Regions from separate parts of the Homo sapiens genome. Here region 2 is linked to region 1. The links come from fine-mapping of genetic effects on gene expression. Tissue or cell type: esophagus muscle. Region 1 holds a variant in brackets; the other region holds the start of a gene. All regions are shown on one strand. Distances are from middle to middle.

Region 1 (2,679 bases):
CCTTTGTGACCTAGTGTTGGCAGATCTCAATCTATAAAATTAGTTATTAAATATCTTTTCCTTTAGGAAGCAAAGAGGGCAGTAGAGTGTAACACTGGAAATCTGAGAACTAAGTGGTACTAAAATCACTAAATAAAGGTAATGGACTTGAACTTCGGAGTATTTGATTACAAGAAAATTAGATCCTCCAAAAATATGTATAATAAATATGCAATTAACAATACATTAGTCAGTGGACCTTTTTCTTTCTTCTTTTCAGTGGCAAAGAATAGATTAAAACAATGATAACTAAGCACCCTAAAATTCCTATCTGTTTAGTATTGAAAAATGTGTAAGTAGATAATTAAAACACTTAAAGAATGCTTCCAGCCTAAAAGACAAGTGTCTTTGCTTTCCCTGTGCATCTCACTTAACATTAACATAATTTGCCCACTCAAGCTGCTGTATGAGTTGATTTTATAGGTTACTATCCTTCCATTCATCATCCATTTTCCAAGAATGAATATGGATATTGTGGTGAGAAGTTCAGTCTGAAATGAAAGGCAATTCTACTATTACCTTATCCTGGAATTAAAAAATATATATTCAGAGACGGTTATTTCTCAATGATACATTTCTAAGCCAATGAAAAGCAATTTCTTCGACAGGCACGGTGGCTCACGCCTGTAATCCCAGCACTTTGGGAGGATGAGGTGGGCATATCACCTGAGGTCAGAAGTTCGAGACCAACGTGGCCAACATGGTGAAACCCTGTCTCTACTAAAAATACAAAAAAATTAGGTGGCACAGTGATGCACTCCTGTAATCCCACGTATTTGGGAGGTTGAAACAGGAGAATTGCTTAAATTCGGGAGGCGGAGTTTGCAGTTAGCCGAGAGCGAGCTGTTGCACTCCAGCCTGGATGACAAGAGTGAAACTCCATCTCAAAAACACAAACCACAACCAAACAAAAAAATATTTCTTTGTAAAATTTTGTCCTAAAGTATACTTGCATGCACACATACACCTACCAGTACTTTTTTTTTTTTTTTAAGAAAGGTGGGATTTCACATTAGACGTAAAAATAAAAGCATTTTTTTTTTTTTAAGGTGCAGTCTCGCTTTGTTGCCCAGGCTGGAGTGCACTGGTTTGATCTTGACTCACTGCAGCCTCCACCTGCCAGGCTCAAGCGATTCTCCTGCCTCAGCTTCCTGAGTAGCTGAGATTACAGGCATGCCCCAGTATGTCTGGCTAATTTTTGTATTGTTGGTAGAAATGGGGTTTCACAGTGTTGGCTAAGTTGTCCTTGAACTCCTGGCCACAAGTGATCTGCCCTTTCCTGCTTCCCAAAGTGCTGGAATTACAGGCGACAGCCACTGCCCCGGGCACTTTCTGGCGGTTTCTCTGAAAAAACAAACACGTTAAAAGAGTCTATTTCTACTTTCTTTTAGGTATTTCTCCATCTCTCTGTGCTGATGTGTCTGGAATTGACAGGTTCTTCGTCTCACTGACTTAAAGAA[G/AGAAG]CCGTGGACCCTCACAGTGAGTGTTACAGCTCATAAAGGCGCCGCACGTGGATTTGCTCGTTGTGACATTCGGATGCTGAGACAGTTTCCTCCTTCTGCTGGGTTCACGGTCTCACTGACTTCAGAAAGGAAGCTGTAAACCTCCGCAGTAAGTGTTACAGTTCATAAACACAGCACGCACCCAAAAAGTGAGCAACAACAACATTTATTGCAAAGAAGGAAAAAACAAACCTTCCCCAGTAGGCAATCAAACCCGAGTGGGTTACCACTACAGGCTTGGGCAGCCTGCTTTTATTCTCTTATCTGGCCCCACCCACATCCTGCTGATTGGTCCATTTTACAGAGAGCTGATTGGTCTGTTTTACAGAGAGCTGATTGGTCTGTTTTGACAGGCTGCTGATTGGTGCATTTACAATCCCCGAGCTAGATACAAAAGTTCTCCAGGCCCCCCACTAGATTAGCTAGATACAGAGTGTCCATTGGTGCATTCACAAACCCTGAGCTAGACACAGGGTGCTGATTGGTGTGTTTACAAACTTTGAGCTAGATACAGAGTGCCAATTGGTGTATTTACAATCCCTTAGCTAGACATAAATGTTCTCCAAATCCCCACCAGACTCAGGAGCCCAGCTGGCTTCACCCAGTGGATCCCCCACTGGGGCCGCAGGTGGAGCTGCCTGCCAGTCCTGCGCCTGCGCCTTCACTCCTCAGCCCTTGGGTGGTCGATGGGACTGGGCGTCGGGGAGCAGGGGGCAGCGCTCGTCGGGGAGGCTCAGGCATGGTGGGCGGCAGGTCCCGAGGCCTGCCCTGAGAGAAGGCAGCTAAGGACCGGCGAGAAATCAAGCACAGCGCCGGTGGGCCGGCACTGCTGGGGGACCCAGCACACCCTCCGCAGCCGCTGGCCCAGGTGCTAAGCCCCTCATTGCCCGGCCAGCAGGGCCGGCCGGCTGCTCCGAGTGCGGGGCCCGCCAAGCCCACGCCCACCCGGAACTCCAGCTGGCCTGCAAGCGCTGCGCGCAGCCCCGGTTCCCGCTCGCGCCTCTCCCTCCATACCTCCCTGCAAGCTGAGGGAGCCAGCTCCGGCCTTGGCCAGCCCAGAAGGGGGCTCCTACAGTGCAGCGGTGGGCTGAAGGGCTCCTCAAGTGCCACCAAAGTGGGAGTCCAGGCAGAGGAGGTGCCG
Region 2 (2,679 bases), 190 kb after region 1:
GCCCATCTTTTAAGGATGGTGAGATGGGCTGGTCTCTTCTATTTGGCTGATCAAATCTCTTAGCCTGGGCCAAAAAATGCCCTGCTCAAACCCAACAATGCTCAGCACCAGATTTTTTTGTACGTTGCTGAAATGGCTCTTCCTAGTTTTTGGTCTATCTAGACACCGTTCTTAGGGAGGCAGGAACTCAGCGCCCCTTCTCTTTAGGTCTGGCCCAAGCAAGACATGAGGGCCACCTCATGCACACTCAGTGTCTGGAATGGCAGTGCTATAGATGCACAGACGTCCTGTGCCCAACCCCCTGGGGCCAGGCCACCTTAGCAGGCCCCAGCTTCTGGGTGTGTGACCTTGTCCAGCCCCACACTCCTTTCCCCACACCTCTTTTTGAAACTTACCGCTCCCCTCCCCACCGTTCTTGGTGCAAACATTACAATGGTGGAGACTCACAAACAGCCCAACCCAGTTTCAAAACACATCATACAAACGGAAAAGTTGTTTCAGATTACAAACTTTTAAAGAAGAAAAAAACGGGAGGGGAGAAAAGAAAAGAGTGGGGAACAAGAGAATCGGCCAGGCAACGTCTGCCCTGGTAGGAGGCCCTTGTGCTGAGTTGGTCACAATCCAAGCCCAGACACTCATCCTGCCTGGCTCCACGGGTGACTCCCATTCAACAGTCTGGCTCCCCTACATGAGTACCAGCCCCTGACAACAGGCCTTTCCCAACTGACCCCCTGCCCTCCAGAGCCCCCTGAGACCCGGGCCCTCCCTCGGAACTTGAGGGCGCAGGGGACCAGGACGGCCGTCTCAACGGTCCCAGTTCTTTTTCCCCACTATGGAACACAAGACCCTCTGACCTCCTCCTTCGAGCGAAACTGCACACAGAGCAGGGAAGCCCTGCCGCGCTGGGTTCGGAGGAAAGAGGAGGCCGTGGACGGGGAAGAGGTCGGGTTTCGCTCCCTCAGCGCCGCCGCCTGGGCGACTCTTCCACCCCCGGCTCGGGTTCGAAGCGGCGCGGCCCAGAGAAGAGGAAGAAAGACGAAAAGGAACTTTGCCCGTGGTTTCAGTCAGTAGGCGGGTCAGGCTTCGCAGGGGGGTGGCCGGAGAAACTTGCGACCCTGGCGACCTGGGTCCGCGGGAGCAAGGGCCGGGGCGGCTCTGGGGACTGAGCTCCAGCGCGGGGGCTGCGGCAGCAACTTTCCCGGAGGAAGCCTGCCGCGAACTTTAGCGACGCGGTGCCCCGCCCGCTGCGCGATGCTCCCTGGGCTCCGGCCGGGTCCAGACGCCCGGCGCGTCCGCTCCCGGACCCCTGCTTTCCCGGGACGCCCTGTAGAACCTCGGCCTCGCGCCCCGCGCTCACTTACCATTTGCGCCACTTTCAGCAGGGCCGCGTGGGTGCGGGGGTAGCTGAGGTCCAGCAGCCCCTCCAAGGGGCTCGCGCTGGGCTGGGCCGCGCCGGCCCCGGGTCCGAGCGCGCTGCCGCTGCTGCACGTGGTGCGGACGAGCCCGGCTCCGTGCGACATTGCGCGGCCCCAGCTCGCTGGCCGCCTCCCCGGGCAGCTGCCCAGGGGCCAGATACAGAGGGCGGGCCGGGGGCGGGCGGGGGCGGGCGCTGGCGAGGGCGGGGCGCCCGGGTCCCTGCCCCGCTGCTGGAGACGCGGAGCCGCCTCTGGCGGGATCCCTCCGGTGACTGGCCGGCCGGCGCCTTCCAGAAAGGTAGCGGCAGTCCCGGCCCTCGTAGATGCGCGGAAGTTAGACTGGAGCGAGAGGAAACCGGATGCCTTGGGTCGTGGCCTCTCCGAGGTGGGCAAGGCCCGGACCACAGCTGGTACTGAGCCTCCTGGGATTTTGTGTGGGTGCGGCTGCGGATGTGTGCTGAGAGCACTTTACTGAAGTTTAACTTACATAAAGTGTGATGCCCAGACCTTACGTGTTCAGCTCCACTAATTTTTATATATGTGTACACCTGTGTAACCGTCGCCCAGATCAACAAATAGAACGTGCCCATCACCCCAGAAAGTTCCGTGGTGGGCCTTCCTGACCTACCTTCCTTCCCTGGCCCCATCCTTATCCAGCCTCAGGCAACCACTACAGTGTATTCTGCTTTCTGTCACTGTAGGTTCATTTTGCCTGTTCTTGGACTTCATAAACTTGAAGTAATACAGAATATTCTCCTTCAACATAACAAATTAGAAGATCCATCCTGTTGGGAATATAAGTAGTTCATATCAGTTCCTTCCTTTTTATTGCTGAGTAGTACTCCACTGTGCAAAGATACCGTATTTTTTAAACGTTTACCCAGTTGATGGACACCAAGCTTGCTTCCTTCCTACCTGCTTGCCTGCCTCCTTCCCTCCTTCCGGCCTTTCCCCCCTCCCTCATCTCTTTTCTGGCTATAGTCACTATTATGGTACACGTTTTTTTGGTGGATACAAACTCTCATTTCTCTGGGACAAATATCTGCAAGTGAACGCACTGGTTACAAGGGGAGCATATGTTTGCTTCTGTTAGAAGCTGTCAGCCTGGGGAACATGGCCAGACCTCATTTCTACAAAAAACAAAAAATAAAAATAAATTAGCTGGGCCGGGCGCGGTGGCTCACGCCTGTAATTCCAGCACTTTGGGAGGCCGAGGCGGGCGGATCACGAGGTCAGGAGATCGAGACCATTCTGGCTAACACGG

What was found. PIP is the estimated chance that this variant, and not a neighbour inherited with it, causes the effect.
Region 2: CMTM7 starts here. The variant in region 1 is fine-mapped to the expression of CMTM7 in esophagus muscle (GTEx, PIP above 0.99).

Annotation. Positions count from the first base shown.
Region 1 is chr3:32,578,619-32,581,297 of GRCh38, reverse strand. LOC124906226 (a long non-coding RNA gene) reads right to left here and starts at 2,590. Exons shown (of 2, transcript XR_007095860.1): 1 at 2,553-2,590; 2 at 1,689-2,306. The variant G/AGAAG (reference allele first, on the strand shown) is at 1,500.
Region 2 is chr3:32,390,748-32,393,426 of GRCh38, reverse strand. CMTM7 (CKLF like MARVEL transmembrane domain containing 7) reads right to left here and starts at 1,574. Exons shown (of 5, transcript NM_138410.4): 1 at 1,362-1,574. The coding sequence starts at 1,520.